7 linked regions of the Homo sapiens genome follow. The protein of the gene in region 1 purifies or fractionates together with the protein of each later gene. This does not show direct contact. Each region holds a gene or a part of one and is shown in the gene's direction. Other genes may lie near its edges.

Region 1 (4,023 bases):
GTGGCCTGGTGCCCGAGTCTGGCCTGCCCGGTCCCTCTTAGCTCTCACCCTTTAGGTGTCGGGGGTTCCTGGGGCATTCAGCCTGCTTATGCTGGGTCCTTCGACACTGCAGGGCACCACCTACCAGAAGACGGATGCAGCTGTGGAAATGAAGCGGATTAACCGAGAGCAGTTCTGGGAGCAGGCCAAGGTATGGAACCCTGAGCCCGGCCTGGCTGAGCCACCCCTCATGGACCCCATGGGGCAGGTCTGAGTCCCTCACTGCAGTGGCATGGCCCATGCCACGTGCCCCGCCCCCAGCGCTGGGTTAGGGAGGGGCTGGAGGGGCAGGGTCCAGGCGCCTAGGCTCGGGGCCTACCCTTGTTCGCACCGGGGCTTGCAGAAGGAAGAAGAGCTGCGGAAGGAGGAGGAGCGGAAGAAGGCCCTGGATGAGAGGCTCAGGTTCGAGCAGGAGCGGATGGAGCAGGAGCGGCAGGAGCAAGAGGAGCGCGAGCGGCGCTACCGGGAGCGGGAGCAGCAGATCGAGGAGCACAGGTGAGCCTGCCCGCCCGGAGCGCTCCAGGGGCCCCCGGGCGCACCCTGACGGGTGCTGGCTGCTTATCGTTCCAGGAGGAAACAGCAGACTTTAGAAGCGGAAGAGGCCAAGAGGCGGTTGAAGGAGCAGTCTATCTTTGTAAGTTCTTTGCCAAGGCTCCCGGTCTCTGGGTCAGGGAAGTGAGAATGGTCCCTGTGTTCCTGGGCCTTGTGGGGAGATCAGTGGCTCAGGGACAGTGGTGGCTGTTCTGGGGAGCTGCATGGGCACAGGGTGCCATGGAGCATGAGGCCTGGCACCTCATCACGTGGGGCTCTGGCCTCTGGCCGTGGAAAAAGACTACTTTGGAGAAGCTTGTGCTCTAGATTGGAAGAGAAACTCCATCTAGACCCAGACCCTCACTGACCAGGCTCCCCCTCCCCTGCCCTGGGGTTTCTCGGCGATTAGACACTGTTCTGCACTCTGAGGGGCCACAGGAGTGAGGCAGGCGGCATGGGTGAGCCTGGGCCAGTGCTGAGCATCTGCAGGCAGTGTGTACCATCTCCTTGGGAGCAGCATCTCCCTGGGAGCAGCCCCTTTGTTCCAGGGGTACTGTCTGAATCTCCACACATTGGGAATGGCCCGTAGGTCCTGTGGATTGGTCCCTGAGAATCACAGCAGAGTCACATCTCCATGCTTTGAATTTAGTATTTTGGAAATAGCTAATGTCATTCAGGACTGAGCATGGCTCAGTTCAGGAAGGGAGGTGGGTTGATACTCATCTGGATTGGGACTGTAATGGGCAGATGCATGGCTGTGGGGACTCAAACGGGCTCCGGAGTCACCCACAGGAGGCTGAGAGAGAGGAGGCAAGACAGTCCTGCAGGCAGCAGCATTAAGTCACTCCAGTCACATCTGCCCTTGGATGGGGTGGGGATGATGTGTGGCTGGTAAGCTCCATCCTCAGTCATTCATTCAACACACACCTGCCACCTGCCACATAAAGAACATGGTGGAGAACGAGCTGGGTAAGATCTTTTTTTCATAAGTTGATTCATGTATTTTTTTTTTTTTTTTTTGAGATGGAGTCTCACTCTGTCGCCCAGGGTAGAATGCAATGGCGTGATCTTGGCTCACTGCAACCTCCATCTCCCAGGTTCAAGCGATTCTCCCGCCTCAGCCTCCTGAGTAGCTGGGATTACAGGCGCACACCATCATGCCTAGCTAATTTTTGTGTTTTTGTAGAGACTGGGTTTCACCATGTTGGCCAGGATGGTCTTGAACTCCTGACCTCGGTTGATCTGCCCGCCTCGGCCTCCCAAAGTGCTGGGATTATAGACGTGAGCCACCGCGCCTGGCCACATGTATGTAACTGTGGCAAAATACATAAAATGTACCATTTCAGTCATTTTAAAATCTGCATTTCATTAAGCGGCATTAAATTCATTCACATTGTAGGATAACCACCACCACCATCCATTAAACACAAATTCTGCCCTTCCCCACTCGCCAGCTCCTGGCAACGACCATTCCACTTTCTGTCTCTATGAAGTTGACTACTCTGGAGACTGCCTATCAGTGGAATCGCACGGTGTTTGTCCTTTTGCGTGTGGCTTATTTCACTTAGCATGATGTCCTTAAGATTCATCCATGTTGTAGCATGCATCAGAATTTCCTTCTTTTTGAAGGCTGAATCATATTCCATTGTATGGATATACCACATTTTATTTATCCTTTCAGAGTGAGGTTTTTTAAAATTTTTTTATTTTTTAAATTTTTTTGAGACGGAATCTCGCTCTGTCGCCCAGGCCGGAGTGCAGTGGCGCCATCTCAGCTCACTGCCAGCTCCGCCTCCCAGGTTCACACCATTCTCCTGCCTCAGCCTCCAAGTAGCTGGGACTACAGGTGCCCGCCACCACGTCCGGCTAATTTTTTGTATTTTTAGTAGAGACGGGGTTTCACCATGTTAGCCAGGGTGGTCTCGATCTCCTGACCTCATGATCTGCCCACCTCAGCCACCCAAAGTGCTGGGATTACAGGCGTGAGCCACTGCACCCGGCCTGCCTCCCAGGTTTAAGTGATTTTCCTGCCTCAGCCTCCCAAGTAGCTGGGATTACAGGCGCCCACCACCACGCCTGGCTAATTTTTGTATTTTTAGTAGAGATGGGGTTTCACCATGTTGGCCAAGCTGATCTTGAACTCCTGACCTCAGGTGATCCACCCGCCGGCCTCACAAAGTGCCGGGATTACAGGCATGAGCCACCGCACCCAGCAGATAAAGTTTATTATTTATTTATTTATTTATTTATTTATTTATTTATTTATTTATTGTCTTTTTAGTAGAGATGGGGTTTCACCATGTTGGCCAGGATGGTCTCGATCTCTTAACCTCATGATCTGCCCTCCTCGGCCTCCCAAAGTGCTGGAATTACAGGTGTGAGCCACCTCACCCAGCCAAGTTTATTTATTTATTTATTTTTATTTTTTTGAGACAGAGTCTTGCTCTGTCGCCCAGGCTGGAGTGCAATGGCACAATCTCAGCTCACTGCAACCTCTGCCTCCTGGGTTCAAGCGATTCTCTTGCCTCAGCCTCCTGAGTAGCTGGGATTACAGGCGTGCACCACCATGCCCAGCTAATTTTTGTATTTTTAGTAGAGACAGGGTTTCACCGTGTTGGTCAGGCTGGTCTCGAACTCCTGACCTCGTGATCCACCTGTCTCGGCCTCCCAAAGTCCTGGAATTACAGGCGTGAGCCACCGCACCCTGCCTGATAAAGTTTATTTATTTATTTATTTATTTTTATTTATTTATCTTTTTTAAGATGAAGTCTCACTCTTGTCCCCCAGGCTAGAGTGCAATGGCGCCATCTCAGCTCACTGCAACCTCTGCCTCCTGGGTTCAAGCGATTCTCCTGCCTCAGCCTCCCAAGTAGCTGGGATTACAGGTGCACGGCTCCATGCCCGGCTAATGTTTGTATTTTTAGTAGAGACAGGGTTTCACCATGTTGGCCAGGCTGGTCTCAAACTCCTGACCTCAGGTGATCCTCCCACCTCGGCCTCCCAAAGTGCACTGCACCCAGCCCTGATAAAGTTTATTTTTTTGCTAACATTTCAAACATACACACATGCAGGTAGACAGAATAGTGTTGTGAACCCCCTGAGCTGATTTATTTTCACCAGTTATCAACATTTCAGGTAAAGTCTGAAGGAGCTTACCATTATTTTATAGTCCCATCTGGCCCTTCAAGTATAGTTCACGTGAGAGTGACAGTGGACATTCTAGCAGGTCAGTGTGGTACCCTTTCAATTTCAGGTCCTCTAAGGAAGGGAATATGCGAGAGACTTTGGGATTTAGCACTGTGAAATGCTTTCTCTTGGCTTAAGGAGCTGTTGCTTTCTCTCCCCTGTTACGAATTGTGTTCCATATCTGAGTTCCCTTTTTGCCTGGCCTGCAGGGGAGCTCCCGTGTATCTGAAAATGCTTTAGGCACAGCAGTGGCTTTGACCCATGTGG
Region 2 (4,023 bases), on another chromosome or scaffold:
GATTACAGGTGCCCACCACCACGCCTGGCTAATTTTTTGTATTTTTAGTAGAGATGGGGTTTCACTATGTTGGCCAGGCTGGTCTCAAACTCCTGACCTTGTGATCCACCCACCTTGGCCTCCCAATATGCTGGGATTACAGGCGTGAGCCACCGCGCCTGGCCCCCTCACCTTTTTGTTTTGAGACACGGTCTCGCTCTGTTGCCTAGGCTGGAGTGGCATGATCCTGGCTCACTGCAGCCTCAATCACCTGGGCTCAAGTGATGCTTCAGCTTCCAGAGTAGCTGGGACTGCAGGTGCATGCCACCATGCCCGGCTAATTTCTTTTTATTTTTTGTAGAGACAGGGTCTTACTATGTTGCCCAGGCTGGTTTCGAACTCCTGGGCTCAAACGACCCTCCCACCTCCGCCTTCCAAAATGCTGGGATTATAGGCACGAGCCACTGCGCCAGCTGGCTTCCGCCTCCTCTGCCATCTCTTTGTTCTTCTAGCATGAGAATGCATGCCTTTCCTGTGGACAGAGGGCTTCCAGAGTCACAGTGACAAAAGAAGTCACTTGATCATCTCCATTTTACAGATGAGAAAATGAGGCTTAAGGAAATTGAGCCCCTCTCCTCACTCAGAATCCTGTGCTCACCCTGTCGCTGTCTGAGCCTGGGGACCTGTGTCTGCACAGGGTGCTGGCCTCTAGCCTAAGGAACCTCTGGGGGACCCAGCCCTGCCCTGCTCCGCCCTGCTCCTCTGTTCCCAAATGCAATGCTTCTGAGTCTGCTTCCAGCACGGCCTCTGGGGTAACCCACTCCTGTCCTTATTTCCAGGTGTCTTGGCACTTGGTGCCCTGCAACCCAGCCTAGATGTGCCCATTGCTGACTGTCCTTGGCAGGTGCCGGCTGGGGAAGGAGCCTGGTGTAGCTCTGGTGGGGCTATTTTTAATGTCAGGGCTGGGCCACACTCTGCCAGGTCAGTCTTGGATTTAGGGTGCCCGGTGCCAGCCCTCTGGGTTGGCTGCGCAGAGGAGGAGGCAGGAAAGAAGGGTAGGGGTGCACCCAGTCTAGCCTTATTACTTGCTCACACTTACCTGGTGTGGGTCCCATGGGGAAGGGTCCTCTGCACCCCCTCTCCAGGGCCCGTCTTCCTTCTTCCTGTCCTTGGGCTGTCCCTACAGTCTCTGATCTGGCTTCTTCCTCCCGTGCTGCTAACAATAGAGCACGCTCTAAACAAAGGCCCCCCATTCAACTCAGAAACCCGCCCTGTCTCTGTCCCTGCCCGTCTCTGGCTGGGATGAGTGGGCAGGGCCTGCGTCTGTCTCTCTCGCTTCCACCCTGGCTCTGTCCAGGGGCATTGCAGGAGGTCTGACTCCAGGTCCAGGGTGGAGAGGGACAAGACTGAACTGGGTGTGGCCCCCTCCACCCTGGGAACTGTAAAACCAGCACTTTTGTTTCTTGTGAGAGAAGTTCCTTTGTTCTCCTGGGCAGTAGGTAAGGAGAAGGGTGGGGCTGGTTGACAGTCCTGCCTGAGGTCTGACTTCCAGCCTTCCTGTTGCAGGAATAGCTCCCGTGACCCCTTCCTCAGGAGGAGTTCTGGAGTGTGTCCTCTCTCTGAACTGGTTCCCAACTCTGACGTTGCCCACCCCCAGCCTTCTTCTGTCTGTTGTGGGAATCCTGTTTTTTTATTTCTAGAATCTTAGACATCAACATTCCTTTGAGATCCAGGGACACAAGGACACCCAGCAAGTTTGTGGCAGAGCTGGGACTAGAACCTGGGACTCTTTTTTTTTTTTTTTGAGACAGGGTCTTGCTCTGTTGTCAGCCAGGCTGAAGTGCAGTGGCGCAGTCTCGGCTCACTGCAACATGCACCTCCCTGGTTTAAGCAATTCTCCCGCCCCAGCCTCCCGAGTAGCTGGGATTACAGGTGCACACCACCATGCCTGGCTAATTTTTGTACTTTTTTAGTAGAGACAGGATTTCACCATGTTGACCAGGATGGTCTTGAACTCCTGACCTCGTGATCTGCCCGCCTTGGCCTCCCAAAGTGCTGGGATTACAGGTGTGAGCCACCGCACCCGAACCTGGGACACTTGATTTGCAGCCGAGTGCTCTGCTTCCATCTGCAAGCACCTTGGTCCCCTCCTCCCCTTGGCAAGAGGGCTCAGCTCCACCCAGGCTTGTCTAGTGGACTGGATGCTGTTCCTACCACAAGTGCTGCCATTTTCTCAGTGTGCAGGCACAGCTTCTTCACCTAGAAATTGGGAATAAAGCCAGGCACAGTGGCCCAAGCCTATAATCCCAGCACTTTGGGAGGCTGAGGTGGGCGGATCACCTGAGGTCAGGAGTTCAAGACCAGCCTGGCCAACATGGGGAAACCCGGTCTTTACTAAAAATACAAAAATTAGCCAGGCGTGGTGGTGCACACCTGTAGTCCCAGCTACTTCAGAGGTTGAGGCAGGAGAATCACTGGAACCCAGGAGGTGGAGGTTGCAGTGAGCCAAGATCATGCCACTGCACTCCAACTTGGGCGACAGAGAGAGATTCTGTCTCAAAAAAAAGAAAGAAAGAAAGAAATTGGAAATTATAAAACATCTGCCAGGGTTGCTTTGAGGGAAGAATGAGATTCACATAATAATAAAGGCCACTGGGCGTCCACCCCCCCACCCCCCCATGGCATCCTGTGGCTTCTGTCTCTCCCTGGGTAGCTGTCTAGCCCTCAGCAGTCTCCTGGCGGTTGACCTGGGCTGGTGGGGGTGGTGAGGGGCCTGCTGAGGAAGTTCCTCAGCTTGACTGTGGTGGTCCCTTTAGATGTGAGGCCGGCAAGGGGTGACCCTTGTTTGGAGTGAGGCCCGCTTCCCTCTCCCTTAGCTGAGAAGCCCCAGGGTTAGGCACTGTCTATGCAGGAGGGCCCTCTGGCTGGGATGCAGTGTGTTTGTTGACCAGAGCTGCAGATGTCCAGCAGTGTCCAGATGTCGTTCAGCCTTGAGCCCAGCAGAGCGGCATTCAGTGGGTTATTGCTACCGTGTTTACTTGTACACTTGCACCTTCCTTCTCTCCTGGGGGCAGCTTCTCTTCCAAACTCTCCTCTGCTCTCTCTTGGGACTTGCCCTTGGGGCAGGGAAATGGTTGGGGAAGGCGGCACAGCACGAGGAGCTCAGGATTTTAGTAGGGTTTTCCCATGTCTGCCTTCTCCGAGCACCCCGCCCCCCGCCCCCCACCATTGCCCCTGTTTCCTGCCAGTGGCCATTCCCCTCTGTTGCTGGGGAAGGGGTGTGGGGAAGGGGTGCGTGTGGAAAGGGGGCTGGTTGGGGGGGCTCCTTCTGAAATAGCTACACTTTCGAATGCCTGGGAAGCAGCTGTGCACATCTGGCGGCCCGAGCCTGTCGTCTGGGGTCTGCCGTCTGAGGTGGCGGGACTGCTTCTGTTTAATCAGCCTGAAACTCTGAGTCACTAGGGATTGCGGGAGGAGAGGAAGGAGGCAGCTGGGAGCTGGCCTGGCCCCTGCCTCTGCCTGTTCCGGGTGTGCTCACGGCTGCCTGCCATAAAAGGCTGGGAGACCTGCAGGACCATTCGTCATCCTCCTGGAGGGCCAGGGCGGCACTGGGGCAGTCACAGGGAAGACTTATCCTTGGTGATCTTTGTTCCTGGGGTGGGGCCAGGTTGCCCCAGCCACCCCACCCTCACCTGGTCCCCATCACAGTGAGACAACCCGGGTGCTGCCTGGCTTCATGGGTGGACCAGCCTGAGTTCTGCTTACTCACTGAGGCTGCGCCGGGATGTGCAAAGACTACAGACCTTGGTGCCCTCACACCTGGTCCCAGTCCCAGCTCTGCCATTTCTAACCTCAGTTTCTGCATCTGTACGCGGGGGACCAGTGCATGGGCTTTGAAACCCGCCCATGAGCATGACGGTGTCTGTGAAAGGTCTGGCTCGTAGTAGGCCCTCATGGGATCACGGCGTCCATTCTCCCCGCAGCCTCTGACCTCTGCAGGTCAGTTCCCAGGACAGTGGAGCCAAACACAGACCAAGCGGGAAG
Region 3 (4,023 bases), on another chromosome or scaffold:
ATTACAGGCATATGCCACTGCGCCCAGCTAATTTTTGTATTTTTAGTAGAGACAGGGTTTCATCATGTTGCCCAGGTTGGTCTTGAACTCCTGACCTCAGGTGATCTACCAGCGCTCGGCCTCCCAAAGTTCTGGGATTACAGGCATGAGCCACCACACCCGGCGAGTTATTTAATATTCTACAGTTGAGGAATTGCATCCAAAGGAAAGGGCCCTTGGGATTTTTATAAGGATGTCTGGTGAGCTCCAGCATGCAGGGCTCTCGGGCTACATGGAGCGTTATGGAGAGTAAGCTGCTAGGAGCCTTGTGATTGTTAGGGTACAAAGGCAGCCTTGGAATCATCTCCTGAATCTGCAGCTGCCTGGGATTTTAGGACACTCATTGCAATTTTATGTTAAAGCGCTGATCTCAGGGTGCCTTGCTGTGACTGGGAGTATCCGTAGGTCTAGAACTTTCCAGCAGTTCTGGGCTTCATTGATTTGTGACTCAACTAGGAATCTTCTGGTCACCCTTGACTCCTCTCCCTTTAGGTCCCCGAGGCCTCTGCCCCACCACCTCCTCTTAAGCCTCGCCATCTTTTTTATTTTTTATTTTTTTGAGATGGAGTCTCACTCTGTCAGCCAAGCTGGAGTGCAATGGCACAATCTCGGCTCACTGCAATCCCTGCCTCCCGGGTTCAAGGGATTCTCCTGCCACAGCCTCCTGAGTAGCTGGGATTACAGGTGTCCGCCACCACGCCCGGCTAATTCTTGTATATTTAGTAAAGATGGGGTTTCACCATGTTGGTCAGGCTGGTCTCGAAATCCTGACCTCATGATCTGCCCACCTCGGCCTCCCAAAGTGCTGGGATTACAGGTGTCCGCCACCACGCCCGGCTAATTCTTGTATATTTAGTAAAGATGGGGTTTCACCATGTTGGTCAGGCTGGTCTCGAAATCCTGACCTCATGATCTGCCCACCTCGGCCTCCCAAAGTGCTGGGATTACAGGCATGAGCCACCGCGCCTGGCCTCGCCTCGCCATCTCTTACCTGGGCTACTGCTTTGCCCTTAATGGATCCCTTGGCCCTCGGTTTCTCCTCCGTCTGGTCTAGCCACAGAATGACCTTCCTAAACAAAGATCTCATCTTGCACTCGGCCAGGGCCAAACCCTCATCGTTCCTCACTGCTTACATGCAAAAGCCTGGGCTCTGTAGCCTCCCCTTCAGGGTCTTTCATGCCCCTGGAGTTCTGTTGGCAAGTCTCCCCAAAATGTTGTCTTCTCTTGCCTGCCAGGGAAGCAATATCAAAGGAGATGTGCCAGAAGCTTCCTCTGACATGCCTCTGGCCTCCTGGGCCTCGACTCCAGCCTGTACTCTAGGGCTGCAGTCACTAGGTCCTGGTGGCCCTTTCCTTGGCAGCAGGGTACCCAGTGAGGTGCTTGGGTCTCACTTCTCTTACCACCCCCAGGGTCTAGCCCAGTGGGCAATCCAGAAATGTGAGTTGTTTGAACGGATTGAATTGTAACGACTTGTGGGTTCTTCATATCGAAATTTGGCTGTGATCCATCCAGTACTTTTGCCCTCATCCTATATTACTCACAGTAGAAGCTGGTGTTCTGTGTTATAAGTTCTCCTTTTTTTTCCTTCATCTATGACAATGCAAGCAGAAACGTTCGTGTTGCGGTAACAAGTCCGATGGGGTTTCTGTATATGGGGTTTCTGTACACGTGCTTTTGCCAACCGGGAAATTAAGGTGTGCCGCATGAAGTCAGTCACTTCATTATTGGAACTTTGCCTAAAATGAAGAAACTCATCTAGTGGTGCAATTTGACCTAAGTGTTTTACCCATACAGTCAACTTCAACTTGGGTCACACATCTCAGGAGCAGTTTGCACTGTTGATCTCAGGGGCTCTTTAGTATTGGTTCAGAGAGATCTCTGTCCCTCTTAGAGACACTCCCTATTGTAGGAGGTTTTGAAAGAGGCATTCTTTTTCCTCCTAATGTGCTTGTCCCCTTCTGAAAGTTGATCCTTTAATCCCAAACAAGTTTATAACCTATGTCTAACTGGTTTTTGTGTAAATATAGTAAAAGAAATAGTTTCCATATTTGCTTTGGGATCATTGGTCTGCCCATGTCACAGCCCTGGGTACATTCATTTCAGTCCATATTTTTGGGGCACTTTCCCTGTGCAGAGCTCCGGGTGGGTCCTGTGGGATGCAGAAGCCTATAGCGTATTCCCTCTCATTGGCAGCCTCTTTCCCAGAGTGTCTCGGACAGGGATGTAATGGAGCTATTTTACCAGTCAGAGTAGAAGGGATGAACAATAATAACATGCCATCCATTATTACTGTGTGCCAGACTTAATGCCACACTCTTTACCTCTACAATATATCACTTAATTATTTTTATTTTTTGAGACAGTCTTGCCTGGTCACCCAGGTTGGAATGCAATGGCATGACCATGGTTCACTGCAGCCTCGAACTCCTGGGCTCAAGCATTCCTCCTTCCTCAGCCTCCCGAGTAGCTGGGACTATAGGCAATCACTACTATGCCCAGCTAATTAAAAAAAAAAATTCTAGAGGCAGGGGTCTCACTATGTTGCTCAGGCTGGTCTTGAGCTCCTGGCCTCAAGCTATCCTCCCATTAAGGCCTCTCAAGGCACTGGGATTACAGGTGTGAGCCACCACGCCCGGACTCTAATTTTTACAGTAGCCCCCAAGAAATATTAGTGCAATTGTCTTCATTCTACTGAGGAAAAAACTGAGGGTTAGAAATGCTTGCCCAAGCTTGGGCACATACCATGTGCCCAAATCCAGCTGGATTTGAACCCAGATCTAGTTGACTTCAGTGCCTGTATTCATAACCGCTGCTTTAGCCAGTGCAGCCCAAACTTTAATAGGAATCACCTGCAGTCTTGTTACTGCAGCGTCTGATTCAGTAGGTCTGCACTGGACTTAGAGATTCAACAAACAGGATCCAGGTGATGCTAATTCCTGTCTGAGGACCTGCTTTGAGCCGCCTTAGGTTAATTCTTTGCCACGTGCCTGAGATGGAAGCAACCAGCTGGGGTGCGGGACTCGAAGGGGGCTTCCGAGGAGGAGAAGGAGTCTTTCAAGGCTCCTCTGTTCCTCTAGGCTTTTCATGCCACCCCTTCCCGCTCTCTACCTACACCATTCTCTCCCGTTTGTCTTATTTTCCACTCTGCTCTTCTCCTGGCTTCTCCTTGTGTTGAAAACATCCTCAGGTTTCATCCATTCTAAATAAAGCTCCCCTTGACCTCAAGCGATCACTTCTTTCTTTCCTGCCCACTCACTCCTCAGCACTGATCAGGAGCTCTTCTGTCTTCTCCTCTTGGACACCTTTCAAGACCTCCTGGTTACTTTGATGTCCCCGCAGCCTCCCTGGGATGGAACCCCTCTCCGTGAGAATCCCATCTCAGGTCTAGTGAGGGTGATGGGGCTCTGACCTCCATACTCAGCATCCACACCCTGCTGTGATCTTGAGGTCTCCTGGCGGCCTTATTTTAAAAATCATTTTCTGTCTCTTTGCTTGCTCAGCTTTCCTTCTTAAGGTCCATTTAAGATTTTTTAAAAAATCCTGGTGTTCCTCTTTATAAGGTGAATTGTTCAACATGTCCATTTCAGGTGGAATGCATTCATTTGGCTTTTAGAACTGATTTTCTGTTTGTAAGTAGAAATTAACTCCCAATTAGCTGTGTGAGAATTTGTATCCTCTGTATCTGCTATCAATAGAAAAGAACAATTCGGTTCTGGGCGAAGACCCAAAGGGCTTTTTATTAATAATGCACCTACGATTTGTGAACTGTGTTTAGGTTCATCAGAGGCCTCTCGTTTCTTTCTGGACTTTCAATTACGTTCTGAGCATGGAAAGTTGGCAAATAACTTAGGCTTGGATGGATAGATACAGTCATTGAATAGAAAAACCATATTGATATTTTTAGGTTTTTAAGATCTCACATACTTTAAATATTTCAAAATTTTAAGTAAATACTCTTTCATACATTCTGAAACATTATATCTA
Region 4 (4,023 bases), on another chromosome or scaffold:
CCACTCAGGAGGCTGAGGCACCAGAATCGCTTGAACCTGCGAAGTGGAGGTTGCAGTGAGCCGAGATCACACTATTGCACTCCAGCCTGGGCAAAAGACTGAGACTCCATCTCAAAAGAAAAAAGAAAAAGAAAAATTAGCTGGGTGTAGTGACAGGTGCCTGTAGTCCCAGCTACTCAGGAGGGTGAGGCAGGAGAATCGCTTGAACCCAGGAGGCAGAGGTTGCGGTGAGCTGAGATCACACCATTGCACTCCAGCCTGGGCAACAGAGTGAGACTTCGTCTCAAACAAAAAAAAACAAAAAAAAAAAGAGAGAGAAAAATCAGCTTGGTGTGGTGGTGCATTCCTGTAGTCCTAGCTACTCGGGAGGCTGAGGTGGGAGGATCACCTGAACCTGGGACACAGAGGTTGCAGTGAGCTGAGATTGTGCCTCTGCACTCTAGCCTGGGCCACAGTGCAAGACCCTGTCTCAGAAAAAAAAAAGAAAAAAAAGGCTGGTGGGGGGCTTTTAGGCGCGGTGGTTCGTGCCTGTAATCCCAGCACTTTGAGAGGCTGAGGCTGGCAAATCACTTGAGGCCAGGAGTTGGAGATCAGCCTGGACCAACATAATGAAACCCCATCTCTACTAAAAATACAAAAAATTAGCTGGGTGTGATGGCGCATGCCTGTAATCCCAGCTACTCGGGAAGCTGAGGCAGGAAAATCACTTGAACCTGGGAGACAGAGGTTGCAGTGAGCCGAGATCGCGCTGTTGCACTCCAACCTAGGCAACAGAGCAAGACTGTCTGAAAAAGAAAAAAAAAGTTATTGTGTAGAGGAATTTTTCACTCTGTCTAGACAGCAAGATTACTTCACGTTTGTGCAATCTTGATTTGTACACTGACGTTTGCAAGGAAGGTTTAATGTTGAGGATGGACAGAGTCATTATCTTCTTTTGAACCGTATTGTAACAGCTTTATCGAGATATAATTCACATACCATACAATACGCCTGTGTAGTGTGTACTCTCCACTGGTTTTTAGTATCTTCATGCAGTTGTACAACTGTCACCACAGTCAATTTCAGAATAATTTTATCACCTCAAAAAGAAGCCCTTGTACCTTTTAGCCATGACCTCCCTATCCTCACCACCACCATCCGCCCAGCCCTGGGCAACCAGCAATGTATCTTTTGTCTCTGTAGATTTGTGAACTCCAGACATTTCCTAGAAATTGAATCGTATAATATGTGGTCTTTTGTGCGTGGTTTTCCTTTGCGCAATGGATTTGAGGTCCCTCCACGCTGTAGCAGGTGTCACTGCTGGATCCTCTTTGTGGCAGAATAAAATGCCTTTGTGTTAGGTAGACCACATGTTATGTATCTATCAGTTGATGGACATTTGGAGTGTTTCTGTTTTTTGGCTGCTATGAATAGTGCTGTTCTGAACACTCACGCACAAGTTTTTGTGTGCTTATACTTTATTTCTCTTGGGCATAGACCTAGGAGTGGAGTTGCTGAGTCATACAGTACCTGAGTTTAACCTTCTGAGGAACTGCCAGACCTTTTCCATTTAACATCCCTGTCAGCAGTCTATGAGGCTTCCAGTTTTTCAACACTGTTGCTGAGATTTGTCATTGGCTGTTTTATTTTAGTCATCCTAGTGGGTATGAGGTGGGTTCTCATTGCAGTTTTGATTTGCATTTCCTTGGTGGTTAATGACATTGAACAAACTTTTCCTGAGCTTGTTGGCCATTTGTATATCTCCTCTGAAGAAATGTCTCTTCAGATCCTTCAATCATTTTTAAATGGGGTTATTCGTCCTTTTTATTGAATTATAAGAGTTCCTTTTTTTTTTTTTTTTTTTTTGAGATGGAGTCTCACTCTGTCGCCAGGCTGCAGTATAGTGGCGCAATCTCGGCTCACTACAGCCTCTGTCTCCCGGGTTCAAGCAGTTCTCCTGCTTCAGCCTCCCAAGTAGCTGGGACTACAGGCATGCGTCACCACGCCCTGTTAATTTTTGTATTTTTCGTAGAGACGGGGTTTCACCATGTTGGCCAGGATGGTCTCGATCTCTTGACCTAGTAATCCGCCCGCCTCGGCCTCCGAAAGTGCTGGGATTACAGGCGTGAGCCACCTCACCTGGCCAAGAGTTCTTTATATATTCTGGATCTACAGTTCAAAATACTTTTCTCTCAGGATCGTCTTGTCACCTTCTTGATGAAGCACAAAATTTTTAATTTTGTACAATTTATTTTTTTCCTCTAGTGTTTTGGTGTCATATCTAAGAAACTATTGCCAAATTCAAAGTCACAAAAATTTACACCCTTTTAGGATTTTAGTTCATTTTTGAGTTAATTTTTCTGTATGGTTTTGAGGTAGGGCTCTAGAGGCTTTTTATCTTTGGATCCACAAAACAATCAAACTTATTTCCTATTGGTTATTTTTGTGATTGTTTTTTAAATTTCCAATATTGAGAGTATAAAATTGTGGATCTGAGCCTATCCTTAGCTGCTCATGAGTAGATTTTTATTATTTACTTTATGATTGATTTATGTATGAGACAGGGTCTCTCTCTGTCTCCCAGGCTGGGGTGCAGTGGTGTGATCATGGCTCACTGCAACCTTGAGCTCCTGGGCTCAAGCAGTTCCCCCACCTCAGCCTCCTGAGTAGCTGGGACTACAGGTATACACGACCATGCCTGGCTAAATTTTTAGGCAGAGTTGTATAGATGCTTGCCGATTACACTAATAACTGCAGTAACCAGAATGTAGCAAGCAATCTGTAGAAGTTAGGATTGCCGAAGGGAACTGGGGAGAGAGATGGAGCAAACAGTTGGGTCAGAAACCAGATAGGAAATTAATTAATTACCAGGAGGGCCAGCCAGGCACCATCCCCTAGTTCCTAATGCGTGAGAAACCACTCTGCCTGTGACCGGCTTGTTCCTAGGGACAAGGGGATTTCATTCGTCCATGTGTGTTGTCTAGCAGTATGGTGTCCAGTTGAGGCTGATGTGTGGTCCTAGGGAAGGGGTCGTGTGCTTGGCCACCCTCTGGGGAGCTGGAGTCTTGCTCCCTGCGCGGTAACCGTGTACGTTCATTAGGAATGCAGCCCGCCTCCTCCTCGGCTCTCCAGCTGCCAGTCTCATGTCTTGATAGACAGTCACCATACTGGTTTTTCCTCCCGGCCATATCATGATCCTCTCAAGGAGTGTTTTTCTTATATTATTGTTTTAAAAAGCTCACAGTAACAATTTTATTTTATAATGTCATTAATTAGAATGAATAAAAAGTGAAAATCTCTAAGAATTATGGCAAACAGTAAATGCATACTAGCAATTAAGGCAATAATTTCTGTTTGCATTCATAAGAAACATCATGTAGGCCGGGCGCCATGCCTCACACCTGTAATCCCAGCACTTTGGGAGGCCAAGGCAGGCGGATCACCTGAGGTCGGGAGTTTGAGACCAGCCTGACCAACATGGAGAAAACCCGTCTGTACTAAAAATAGAAAATTAGCTGGGCGTGGTGGCGCCTGCCTGTAATCCCAGCTACTTGGGAGGCTGAGGCAGGAGAATCACTTGAACCCGGGAGGTGGAGTTTGCGGTAAGCCGCGATTGTGCCATTGCACTCCAGCCTGTGCAACAAGAGTGAAACTCCATCTCAAAAAAAACAAAACAAAAAAGACAAAAAGTCATCATGTAGTTAGAAATCTTTTAAAACTTATTTCTTTAGTTTCTCTCTGTTGAACTTTTTTATTAGTAAAATGCAAGTCTTCCCATCCTCCTCTCAGATTTCATTACAAAACCTTGTTACGTTTGGGAAGATTTCTGAAGTTTTCTAAAAAGATCTCCACACAGAAGGGTTTGCCCAGGGAGCTGCTCAACATACATCCTTCTCAGCTTTTTACCCTTAATCTTTTTACAGACGGAATCAGTCCCCAATGCCTGGAAATTCCTCATTGGATTACTGTGTTTTAAACAGAATTTCGTGAACAGCCTTTTATCTCCAAGCGGAAAGAAAGGTACTTGTGCATTGTGAACATCCT
Region 5 (4,023 bases), on another chromosome or scaffold:
TGTTGGTTTTGTTTTCCAGGAAGGAATGCAGCTCATTTCAGAAAAGCCTGAGACGGAAGCTGTGGTGAAGGAGAAACTCACTGGTTTACATAAAATGTGGGAAGTCCTTGAATCCACTACCCAGACAAAGGCCCAGCGGCTCTTTGATGCAAACAAGGCCGAACTTTTCACCCAGAGCTGTGCAGATCTAGACAAATGGCTGCACGGCCTGGAGAGTCAGATTCAGTCTGATGACTATGGCAAAGACCTGACCAGTGTCAATATCCTGCTGAAAAAGCAACAGGCAAGTGGACAAGCCATCATGGACTTGGGTGTATTTCTGTTTTACAGCCATAGTCCTTAGAGTCTTTTCTCACCCACTGCATTATCAGGAGTCCACCTTCCATGGGAAGGCATTTTTAACCCAAAATATTACTTGCTCTAACAGCATCGTAGAACATTTCCAGAATAGAAAGACACTTGTCCAAACTAGAAAGACACAGTATTAGGAGTATTGGGTGTTGGCTGTCTGTGTATGGGATTGATAATTTTCTTAGTTAATGGGTATTATCACCGTTTAACAGTTAAATAAATGTTCATCTCATTCAATTCTGCATTTTACACGAAAGAAATATTCTCATACTTTGTTGTTTAACATCGTGATTTGTGACAGTTATCTGAGTTGTTCAAGGCACTTTATAGGTAATAAAAATAACTGTTTATATTATATCACCGTAGAGGGCTTTAAGGGCAAATGAATTTACCTCAGATTTACTTGAAAACAGTTCCATTGATGTTGAAAAGCAAGTCAGTGGCAAAATGTTTGAGTGGCTCCCATGGCTGGCTTTGCGGTGTGGCCAAGTCCCAGGCCCAGCAGTTCTGCTTAGAGCCAGTCACTGCAAAAGATAGTCTGTGCTGAGCGCTGAGGCTGCTTCTCTGCCCTCAGATGCTGGAGAATCAGATGGAAGTGCGGAAGAAGGAGATCGAAGAGCTCCAAAGCCAAGCCCAGGCCCTGAGTCAGGAAGGGAAGAGCACCGACGAGGTAGACAGCAAGCGCCTCACCGTGCAGACCAAGTTCATGGAGTTGCTGGAGCCCTTGAACGAGAGGAAGCATAACCTGCTGGCCTCCAAAGAGATCCATCAGTTCAACAGGGATGTGGAGGACGAGATCGTGAGTCGACCCCTACTGCACACATGGCTTTTCCACGAGCCCCCTTGCCTGTGCTAAAGCCCACATTCTCACTTCTCAGTCATCCTCACCTTGGGCCACGTTGGCAAGCTGAGCTGCCAAAGTCCACGCTCTGGATGGTCTAAAGTTTCTTTCCCTTTTCACCCTAAATGTAACTCCATTGGTCCTCTCACGTTATCTAGGGATACTGTAGGATTTTAATGGCCCTAAAACAGACTTTTTAAAAGTAATGAGGACTCACAGTGAGTTTGACCTTGAGGATGAGGTAGAGTTGGAAAGACTCTCCCTAGCCCTGTCTCGGAGAACAAGGGCGTGCTTCCCCAGACAGCCCTCCCGAGGGGGCTGAGCACTCTCTGAAGCTCACCCTTGCTGTCCCTCACTGCCCCTCACTGCTCGTTTGTGTCGTATATTTGTTCCTCTGAGTGGATCTGACCACTTATTTAAAATTCTTCCCAGTTGTGGGTTGGAGAGAGGATGCCTTTGGCAACTTCCACGGATCATGGCCACAACCTCCAGACTGTGCAGCTGTTAATAAAGAAAAATCAGGTAAGCCTTTCTGCTCGAGCTAGTTCTGTCTGATAAATAATTGCTCTAAATTATGAGACTGGGAATGGCAGAGAGCTTTGAAGCCTTGCTATTTCTTTCTGGCCCTAACAGCTTGACATAAGCAGCAGACGGCTGCCATTTAGCAAGCCTTTGTGTGTATTTTCCGCTCCCTCCAGACCCTCCAGAAAGAAATCCAGGGGCACCAGCCTCGCATTGACGACATCTTTGAGAGGAGCCAAAACATCGTCACTGACAGCAGCAGCCTCAGCGCTGAGGCCATCAGACAGAGGCTTGCCGACCTGAAGCAGCTGTGGGGTCTCCTCATTGAGGAGACAGAGAAACGCCACAGGCGGCTGGAGGAGGCGCACAGGGCCCAGCAGTACTACTTTGACGCTGCTGAGGCCGAAGCCTGGATGAGCGAGCAGGAGCTGTACATGATGTCAGAGGAGAAGGCCAAGGTGAGAGGAGGCGGGAAGCATCCCTGTCCCAGGAGAGCCTCAGATTCAAACCCTGGGCACACTTTCTGCTGGCGGCTCTGTCTGTATAAAAACTTCCCTTGTAGCCTTTGAGTGTTAAGGGGACACCATGTGCATGAAGGTGTCTGAAATCCAGCTGCTGGTTTCCCTTTGGTGCAGCATTTTCTTATCTGAATCCTAGTGTGCCATTAAGAACAGGTTCATCCTTTCATCTTTGAAATATGCCAGAGTCCTTCCTGCTGTCTATTTATAGGTTCCCTAAACTTTACAAAATACAGGATGGCTTGGAGACAATTTGAAAGTATTGCAAGGTTCCAGGAATGCTGCCATTTACATACTTGAGGGACCTTGAGGAATTCCAGCGAACCAGGCACACTTGGTCTGCCCAAGCTTTTCTCTGAGAGGGGCCCTGCTCATTCTGCGTTCTCCTTGTGTTTATCTTCTGCACAGGCTTCTGTGGTCCAGTCCATATGGAAGCTCTTGGAACACTTCTGTGTTCCACTGTCCGTACTGCACCTCTGGAGTTTTTCTTTCTACTGATCCTTCCTCCTACCCTGCTGAGCAGCTGGTCTGTCACTCCTTAAGGGGTAGGGCCAGAGGGGACCGCTATGGTTGTGATGTTCTCCTGTCTTTGCAGGATGAGCAGAGTGCTGTCTCCATGTTGAAGAAGCACCAGATCTTAGAACAAGCTGTGGAGGACTATGCAGAGACCGTGCATCAGCTCTCCAAGACCAGCCGGGCCCTGGTGGCCGACAGCCATCCTGAAAGGTGAGCGCTGCTTCATGAGTGTGAGACCCGGCTCTCGATTCCTCTCAGTTAGGGTCTCTTGCTAACCCCCACCAAAAGAAAATGTCAGCATTCATCATGACTTGCTGGTAAGGCAAATCTTTGAGAAGCATTTTTAAAACAGACCCATCATTTAAAACATCCTATCATGATTAGGATGGGTGAACTGTTATATTAGGAAATTGCTCTTGTGGGTTAAATATCTCCCGTTGGCCAAGGCTCTCCTGAAAGAATATTGGTGTCGTGAGTCAAAAGTACAGGTTGACTAGGCTGGGCAGTCAACGTAAAGTGGCTTACACTTGTAATCCCAGCACTTTACCAAGCCAAGGTGGGAGGATTGCTTGAGCCCAGGGGGCCAAAGACCAATCTCGGCAATGTGGCGAAACCTCATCTCTACAAAAAATACAAAAAATCAGCTGGGTGTGGTGGCACACGTCTGTACTACTCAGCTATTCAAGAGGCTGAGGTTGGGAGGATGGTTTGAGTCCAGGAGTTTGAGTCTACAGTGAACCATGTTCACACTGCTGCACTCCAGCCTGGGTGACAGAGTGAGACCTTGTCTCAAAAAAATAAAAATGATCAGAAGTACAGGTTGACTTGCATGGTGGATACAGATAGTCATAGCACTTACACTTGGGTTGAAAAAGTCATCCAGTTTAGTAAAGTAATTACTAGTTTTAAGAGGAGCATTAGACAAGAATGCATAGACCTGTAAAATGAAGGGGCTCCCAGGAAGAACAAAGTGATAACACCTCCTAACTCTTCGATATCAAGTGATTAGAACACCTTCGAGGAAAAAGAAGAGGTGAGTGTGTGGTACTCATCAGGCCCCTGTATTAACTTCCAAAGCAGTCATTTTAGGATTTTTGTGTAAATGCCTTTTATGACTTGGAAAGGAATTGGCCTTGTGCATTTAACCAGGGCAGGTTAGGGGAGATGAGGTCAGTGGCTCTGTTGGTGTAGGAGGTTCTTAAGATGTTCATGATCAGGATTCCCAGGAAAGTGGCCTTCCTAGTCTCCAGGGATAGGCACCAACATGTCCTTTGT
Region 6 (4,023 bases), on another chromosome or scaffold:
TGGATCACCTGAGGTCAGCAGTTCGAGACTAGCCTAGCCAACATGGCAAAATCCCATCTCTACTAAAAATACAGCAATTAGCCGAGCATGGTGTCACGTGCCTGTAATCCTAGCTACTGGGGAGGCTGAGGCAGGAGAATCGCTTGAACCCGGGAGGTGGAGGTTGCAGTGAGCCGAGGTCATGCCACTGCACTCCAGCCTGGGAGACAGAGCTAGACTCCATCTCAAAGAAAAAAGAAGAAGAAGAAGAAAGCTAACTCAGTACACTAAGAGTGATTTACATGCCTGCAAATAATTTGTGTCTGGGGTCTTGACCCTCCCCAAATGCCTTGTTATTTATATCTCTGCTTTTAGATAACAGATGGTCATGTGTCTATGGGCTTGTACCGGCAGAGGCAACAGCAGGTCCTTAAGACTCCCCAGGTGCCATGATGAAAAGAACCTTAGAAAATATTGAAATAAGCTCAAAACTTAAAAAAAAAAATACCAGAAATAAAAGCTAGTAAAGGTGAGAGGTGTGGGGCTTTTGGAACATAGAGCATAATAAATCAGAATAAAAAGTAAAAATAAGAAAGAGAAAAAAGTGGCCCTGATTAAATTATAAAATTAAGCATATCTTGAATTCTAACGAGCCAAACAAAAATTCTACTAGGCCAGTATAATAGGGCCTGCAGAGCCTGTCATGGGTTCAGGGTTTTCCCATAAAGATAGGTGTACCTCAGATACTACTCCTAGGTCCTGGCTTTAACCTCAAAGCCCCTCTGCCTGTCCTGCTCTGAAACCTCTGGGGCAGTAGGCATTGACTTCTGGGCTAGGGAGTAAATGTTCCGTGTCCTTATGTGAGCTTCCTATTACCCATTAGCATTGTTTTATGAAGTTTTCAATTTTATATCCTGCCTCATTTCAAAAAGATTGTGATAATCACTTTAGCAGATGATTTGCATTGCAGCAACTGTTCTCCCAGTCCTGGTTAGGATCTGTGCCTGAGGCCTTTTGTGGGGAGTTGGGGTGGGGGCCGGAGAACATCTCAATCTGATCTCAGGAGAGATAAAGACACAGGAGTGAGAACTGCCAGTTCCAAGGTTTCCGTGATGTTCCGGGAAGCCAGGAGAAGTGACATAGTGGAGAGCCGGCATGCTGGGAGCCTAGTGACTTGGATCTTAATCCTGTCTCACACTGATGGCTGTATGGCCTCCACATACTTCTGTGCCCAGGGTCAGAGTTCCCTCCTGCCGCCTGTTTCTAGTCAAGAGCTAGAAGAATAGCCAGCTTCTTTGGGTGGTGGCAAAGGGGATTGTTTATTTATAGTACAGATTCCTGCCCTCCCCCTTTGACCTCCTGAATCAGAATCTCTAGGGACACGGCCTGGAAGTTTGATTTTTTTTTTTTTTTTTTTGTTTTTGAGACAAGAGTCTTGCTCTGTCGCCCAGGCTGGAGTGCAGTGGCATGATCTCGGCTCACTGCAGTCTCTGCCTCCCGGGTTCAAGCAATTCTCCTGCCTCAGCCTCCTGAGTAGCTGGGATTACAGGCATGTGCCACCATGCCTGGCTAATTTTTGTGTTTTTTGTAGAGACGGGGTTTCACCATGTTGGTCAGGCTGGTCTCGAACTCCTGACCTCATGATTGCCCGCCTCGGCCTCCCAAAGTGCTGGGATTACAGGCGTGAGCCACAGCGCCCAGCTGAAAGTTTTTTTTTTAATGCTCATCTCTGAGTTGATTCTGACACTCAGCCACTTGTGGGAATTGCTGATCTGGACAATGCCTAGGGATCCTTCTAGCTAAAAAATTGAGACCCTATTTTTTGGATTTACAGGGCCTCCTCAGGAAGGGGCAGCCACTCTCAGGTCTGCTGTGTGTGCCCTACCATTCCTCCCACTATATCACAAACTGGCACCTAGAAACTGGTCTCCATGCCCAGTCGTTGCTGGGGCACCCTGTATGAAGCCCTGCTGGCTGGTATTCCTGTAGGACATATTCTCTGATGTCCAGGAGTCTGAGGTTCTACAGAATGCCCCTGGGGAAACAAGAGTGGCATTTAGACAACAGCATTCTGTAAACACAGTGCCAAGAGCTAAGGGAAAGAATGGGGGTGGGGGTGATCGGAGGGAAGACACGGATGGATTGGTAGGGGCCCTTTGGGTAGGAAGATCTCATGTGCAAGGCTGGAATGAACATGAGGTGCTGTTTCCTTCCTTTCTGGTGACTCGGCTGTGTGGGGAGCTGGGGATAGAGACCTGTCACCCAGAGGGTTCTTTCCCCAAAGCATAAACAGTCGTCTTTCTGTGAGTACAAAGTCCTTGAGGTTCAGGCCCAGATCTAAAGCAGAGCAGAGAACTTGGAACTTGGTAGCTACAAAAAAGTTTTGAAAATCTTGCTGGCATTTCTCTAATAGGCCATAGCCTCTGTAACAAGGATATTTGCCATCATATTGAAAATGATAAGAAAGGGGGAAAGAAAAGAAAGTGTACAGTGCTTTTGAGTACATAACCTAGACACTCTATGGAGGCTTTTTGTTGTTGTAGGGCTTTTGGTTTGTGTGCTTGGTTTTTTTGTGTGGCTTTAAATTTTGTTTTGTTTTGTTTGCCCTTTGTTTTTGCTTCCGCTTTGAGTCTCCCCCCCACCCTCAAAAGGAATAGAATTTTACTGGAAAATGAAAATATAGAAAAGTGAAGAAATCTTACCTGACCCAAAAGTATATCCTTAATATATACATCCTTCCAGTAATAGTAATAAAAAAAAAAAGCCTAATGGTTTTTAAAAGACACTTCCCTATAATTGAGAGATTTGTTATCCTATTACCCTCACCCTTCAATACACACACACACCAGAAACAACAGTCATCTGCCAGTAATTCCTAGCTGGGTCCATTTACCAGCTGTGCACTGATAATGATTTACTTTGTAGGCAGTACAGTTGTAAATGCTCTTCCTCTGATTTATTTCACATTTGCCCTGCTCCCTGCCTCCATCAACCAATTACTACATTTTTGTCAAGATAAAAGTGTATTTACATGTTTTTATAGAGTCCTTCACCGTGGTTGGAGATGCCCTACTCACCTCTCTTCCCAGATAAAACTTGGCATTTAAAATCTTACAAATCTAGGTGAGCAAAGAGCTGAAGGTTCTCAGATTCCTTTGATTAAAGACTATGACCACAGTTTCTAACTACATTTGCATTTCCAACTCTGTATTGTGGATCCATAAGCTGAGAACGTTGCTTTTATTAAAATTAGGTTGGTTTTACTCATCTTACTGAGCCCATACTCTGTGCAGAGAACTGTGAGTTCTCTGGATGTGAGCAGCTTACAGTTCAATGACAAAGACAGGGCTGTGTGTAGAGAAATTTGTTATCCTATTACCATGGGTCCCTAAGTGTGTATTGTAATTTCTAGAAAACTCCTAAGTGTTCTGAAAACCCCACCACCCCTTAGTGAACATACATTCAAAGTGGATGAGGATATTTTACCTGATTAGTAAATTCCATCTCCCACTTCCATGCACAATATTTAAACAGCCACCAGTGCAAGTGTGTATAATGGACCATCATAGTCTTATAAGTGTTCTGAGGCTCATAGCAACAATTTCTTATGACAGGAAAAAAATCATTGCCTCTCAAAGAAACCAACATTTTATTTCAGTGACAGATACCAAGTAAAAACAGTACTTGTATTATTTTTCTTTTTAGGAGTTTGATACTTTTCTTGTATTAACCTTGACTTCAAAGAAAAATCATAGGCTTACATCAAAAACACTTGGGAAATTTGTCTTGGCTCTGTTCCAATGAGGCCAGTTATTCTAAAAGGGGTTACTGGATTGTGTTGGGCCTTCATGTGGTGTGTATTTTAGAACCACTGAATTTTAAACTATTTAAGTTCCTTTGTAAGGATCCTATGATAAAGTGGCTTGAAGGAAAGAGTTGAGTGAAACTCTTGAGTCCGATTTCTGGCTGTACTGCTATTGTCTTACATGGCTGAGCCTGGGTAAGTCTTGTCTCAGTTCACACTTCAGGCCCCCAGTGAGTGAG
Region 7 (4,023 bases), on another chromosome or scaffold:
GGCTGTTTTAAAGTCCAGATTCTATTTTCTCCACCTTCAGCACTTCCCTAGAAGCCTTTCTTGCTGGACAGGGTTTCAGGAAATTGGGAGAGAAAACTGGGACCTGCTTAGAGCATCCACTCTTGTCTCCTGGTGAAAGGAAGGCCAGCTGGCTTCATGGCCCTGCTCTGGCCAACCACATCAGCATCCATTTGTGTGTGTGTGGGAAATAGAGAGTGTGTGTGTGTGAGAGAGAGATATTGTGAGTATGTAAATGTGTGGAGAGAGGGCAAATGTGCATGAGTGTGGTAGTGTCAGAGTGTGTGTGATTGAGTGTACATGTGTGGAGAGAGGGTGTGTGTGTGTGTGTGAATGCACCCCTGTGCTTGTGCTTTGTTTTGTTTTTGAGGAGGCAAATTTATCATTTATTTATCTATAACATTGACTCTTGGCCAAGCATGGTGGCTCCTGCCTGTAATCCCAACATTTTGGAAGGCCAAGGCAGGCGGATCACTTGAGCCTAGGAGTTTGAGACCAGCCTGGGTAACATGATGAAATCCTGTCTCTAGAAAAAATATTTTAAAAACTAGCCAGCTATGGTGGTGTTTACCTGTAGTCCCAGCTACTCTGGTGGCTCAGTTGGGAGGATTGCTTGAGCCTGGGAGGTGGCAGAGGCTGCAGTGAGCTGAGATTGCACCACCACACTCCAGCTTGGATGACAGAGTGAGACTCTTGTCTCAAAAAAAAGAAAAAAAAAAGAATTTTGAACATCTGAGAAACGCATGTGAAAACATAAACTATTAAAATATGAAATCACACAAAACTCAGTCACCTATATACAAAAAAGTCATGTGGAATATATATTTGAAGAAGAGATCCTTTACAGTATGAACTAGAACCATAAACTACATAGAAATAAACTTAAATATACAAGATCTATGTGAAGCAAACTTTAAAATGATTTCAAGGTTTATAAAATAATTGTTTAATAAATAGCCATTCTGTTGGGAAGTGGCAAAAAGCCTTGATATTTTAAAAGTATCAGTTTCTCCTAAATTGATCTATAAATGTAACACAATCCCCATAATGATATCAGTAAGATTTTAATTTACTGCATGAGCGGTGCTTATGATTTTGTATCTTGAGAATGTGGAGCATTCCCCACAGGCTGGGCTGAGCTTCGTGGTTTAGGGCGGTCCCATGAGCACACTCAGGGCTTTCTGCTGGCCAGGGGTAGGGGTTCAGCAGGCTTTCCCCAGTCTCCCTCAGACCGAGAAGCCCCCCTCCTCAGAGTTGCCCATTTAAGATCTGTATTGGCTGGGCGTGGTGGCACATGCCTGTAATCCCAATGCTTTGGGAGGCCGAGGTGGCTGGATCACTTGAGGTCAGGAGTTCGAGACCAGCCTGGGCAACACGGTGAAACCCCATCTCTACTAAAAATACAAAAATTGGCCGGGCACGGTGATACATGCCTGTAATCCCAGCTACTCAGGAGGCTGAGGCAGGAGAATTACTTGAACCCGGGAGGCGGAGGTTGCAGTGAGCCAAGATCACGCCACTGCACTCCAGCCGGGTCGACAGAGCAAGACTCTGTCTCAAAAAAAAAAAAAAAAAAAAAAAAAAGCTGTATCATCTTAGAAGCTGTCTTAGCTCAGGCTGCTATAACAAAATACCACAAACTGGGTGGCTTAAACAACAAACCTTTACTTCTCACAGTTCTGGAGGCTAGAAAGTCCAAGATTAAGGCACTGGCAGATTTGGTGTCTGGTGAGGGCCTGCTTCCTGGTTCATAGACCACAGTCTTCTCCCTGTGTCTTCACAGGTGGGGAGAGGAGGTGAGCTCTCTGAGGACTCTTGTAAAGACCTGGATCCCATTCATAAAGATTTCATCCTCACGCCCTCACCTAATCCTAGTTACCTCTCAACACCCGCCCCCCCGCCTCCTAAGACCATCACATTAGGGGTAGGGTTTCAACGTATGAATTTAGGGAGGTCTCAAGCATTGGGTCCATAAGAGAAGCTGTCATTTTGAACTTCCCCCCATTTTACAGATGAGGAAACTGAATTCCAAGTGACAAAGTGACTCCTTGCCCAAGGTCACATGGCTAGTAAACCTTCCATCACCTCACATGGCCCGTGTTCCACTCAAGGCTGCACTCACAGTCTCTTCAGGAGCCTACCAGAGGCAGCCTGTCCCCTTCCACAGCCAGAGCCGCCACAGAGTTGGCCCCCAGCTCTCCAACTCAGCTGGCCCGGCTGTGATCTGACCTAGGAATTCCAGAAAGCACATGTGACCCTTAGATCCAACCCCCTGCCTTTGGACTGTGACTCTTTGTCAGGTACTTCAAAGGACAGAACTGTGACCAGTCTCTTTTCTTACTCATCAGACAATTGTGAGAGCTTTATTTATTTATTTATTTATTTGTTTTTTGAGGCAGAGTCTCTGTGATCCCAGCTGTAGTGCAGTGGTGTCATCATAGCTTACTACAGCCTTGAACTCCTGGGCTCGACTGATCCCCCCGCCTCAGCCTCCCAAGTAGCTGGGACCACAGGTGCACGCTACCACACCTGGCTGATTTTTATTTTTATTTTTGTAGAGATGAGGTCTTGCTATGTTGCCCAGGCTGGTCCCAAACTCCTGGGCTTATCAAGTTATCCTCCCTTCTTGGCCTCCCAAAGTGCTGGGATTATAGGTGTGAGCCACCACACCCAACTGAGAGCTGTTTTTGGTTGTTTAAGTCACAGTGGGCTGCCTGGGTGAAAATGTTTCACCCCTAAAAATAAATGTTTTCAAATCTGAGTTTAATGAGCAAGTGAGGTACTACAAGAATGGGCAGGAAGCTATTTCCCTAAATTAGCTTAAATTGTCAGTCATCAACTCTAGAATTCACCAGATAATAACATTTTATTATTTCTTCAGTCAGTGGTGTTTGAAAGTGAAAGTACATATTTTCCAAGTCCTCGAGGTCCTTGAGGTTGTGGGATAAAAGATAACACAGATCTATTCAGACACACCATTGTATTTACTTAAAAAAATTAGGAAGAGCCTTTAGAAAGAGGACTTAGCCAGGCGGAAACCTCCCCATGGGCTTGTCACGTGCAGCTCTGCCCTGTCACCTCCAGTCACATTCAGCGCCACAGATGTGTGGGCTCCTAGCAAGGAAATTGAAGGAGGGTCAGAAGAGAACAATGAGGGGAACCTGATTCCAGTTTGGTTTTGTTTTAAACGTCCTCCTCACCAAGCATGTAGAATCAGATGAAACATGAGGCCTTTGTGGTGACAGCAGAGGTGTCCCTCAGATTCCTGGTCTCCTCACACCCCGGGGGGATATGGGCCAGCCAGAGCTCCCTCCAGACCCCTGTTGTGCCCCCAGGGCACTGATTCCTGGTCACTCTCTCCTGTCTCCAAGCCCTAGGCCCTCAGATCTGGATTCCTTCAAAGGCTCTGAGAAGGCACAGGTTACAGTGGGACCATTATTCCCCGGAGCCAAGCTGTTGGCTTCTTGCTTGTTTAAACCCAGCGTCCTGGAGGTCCGTCCATGGCTTTCATACGATTCTTGAAGGTCACCCGGTCCACCCATGAAACTCCTTTCAGGAGGAAGCAGGGCGGCCAGTAAGGAGGATGGGATGGGCCTTGCCCGCCCTGCAGCCCTCATGCCTAGCTTTGTCTCTTCATTCGTGAAGAATTGTGTTTTCTTTTTTTTTTTTTTTTTTTTTTTTGGAGATGGAGTCTCGCTCTGTCGCCAGGCCGGAGTGCAGTGGCGTGATCTCGGCTCACTGCAACCTCCACCTCCTGGGTTCAAGCGATTCTTCTGCCTCAGCCTCCTGAGTAGCTGAGACTGCAGGCGCCCGCCACCATTTTTTTGTATTTTTAGTAGAGACAGGTTTTCACCATGTTGGCCAGGATGGTCTCGATTTCTTGACCTAGTGATCCGCCCGCCTCGGCCTCCCAAAGTGTTAGGATTACAGGCATGAGCCACTGCGTCCGGCCCAAGAATTGTGTTCTCTTCTAAGGTGATTCTTTAAGAAGATAGACCACAGGAT

Evidence for each region.
Region 2: the proteins of DBN1 (region 1) and JUP purify together in Homo sapiens (affinity purification with mass spectrometry; 2 studies listed by BioGRID and IntAct, with this or other methods). This does not show direct contact.
Region 3: the proteins of DBN1 (region 1) and SVIL purify together in Homo sapiens (co-immunoprecipitation; 2 studies listed by BioGRID and IntAct, with this or other methods). This does not show direct contact.
Region 4: the proteins of DBN1 (region 1) and CTTN purify together in Homo sapiens (affinity purification with mass spectrometry; 2 studies listed by BioGRID and IntAct, with this or other methods). This does not show direct contact.
Region 5: the proteins of DBN1 (region 1) and SPTBN1 purify together in Homo sapiens (affinity purification with mass spectrometry; 2 studies listed by BioGRID and IntAct, with this or other methods). This does not show direct contact.
Region 6: the proteins of DBN1 (region 1) and TPM1 purify together in Homo sapiens (affinity purification with mass spectrometry; 2 studies listed by BioGRID, with this or other methods). This does not show direct contact.
Region 7: the proteins of DBN1 (region 1) and HOMER2 purify together in Homo sapiens (co-immunoprecipitation; 3 studies listed by BioGRID and IntAct, with this or other methods). This does not show direct contact.

What each region holds. Positions count from the first base shown.
Region 1 is NC_000005.10:177,463,422-177,467,444, reverse strand, and holds part of DBN1 (drebrin), read left to right. Parts: intron 1-112; coding exon 113-190; intron 191-382; coding exon 383-534; intron 535-609; coding exon 610-673; intron 674-4,023. UniProt on the Homo sapiens protein: Actin cytoskeleton-organizing protein that plays a role in the formation of cell projections. Required for actin polymerization at immunological synapses (IS) and for the recruitment of the chemokine receptor CXCR4 to IS.
Region 2 is NC_000017.11:41,772,866-41,776,888, reverse strand, and holds part of JUP (junction plakoglobin), read left to right. Parts: intron 1-3,962; exon of another isoform or gene 3,963-4,023. UniProt on the Homo sapiens protein: Common junctional plaque protein. The membrane-associated plaques are architectural elements in an important strategic position to influence the arrangement and function of both the cytoskeleton and the cells within the tissue.
Region 3 is NC_000010.11:29,628,350-29,632,372, reverse strand, and holds part of SVIL (supervillin), read left to right. Parts: intron 1-4,023.
Region 4 is NC_000011.10:70,401,363-70,405,385, forward strand, and holds part of CTTN (src substrate cortactin), read left to right. Parts: intron 1-3,902; 5' UTR 3,903-3,999; intron 4,000-4,023.
Region 5 is NC_000002.12:54,644,304-54,648,326, forward strand, and holds part of SPTBN1 (spectrin beta chain, non-erythrocytic 1), read left to right. Parts: intron 1-19; coding exon 20-283; intron 284-925; coding exon 926-1,150; intron 1,151-1,624; coding exon 1,625-1,714; intron 1,715-1,890; coding exon 1,891-2,172; intron 2,173-2,827; coding exon 2,828-2,958; intron 2,959-4,023. UniProt on the Homo sapiens protein: Fodrin, which seems to be involved in secretion, interacts with calmodulin in a calcium-dependent manner and is thus candidate for the calcium-dependent movement of the cytoskeleton at the membrane.
Region 6 is NC_000015.10:63,052,297-63,056,319, forward strand, and holds part of TPM1 (tropomyosin alpha-1 chain), read left to right. Parts: intron 1-4,023. UniProt on the Homo sapiens protein: Binds to actin filaments in muscle and non-muscle cells. Plays a central role, in association with the troponin complex, in the calcium dependent regulation of vertebrate striated muscle contraction.
Region 7 is NC_000015.10:82,855,002-82,859,024, reverse strand, and holds part of HOMER2 (homer protein homolog 2), read left to right. Parts: intron 1-4,023. UniProt on the Homo sapiens protein: Postsynaptic density scaffolding protein. Binds and cross-links cytoplasmic regions of GRM1, GRM5, ITPR1, DNM3, RYR1, RYR2, SHANK1 and SHANK3.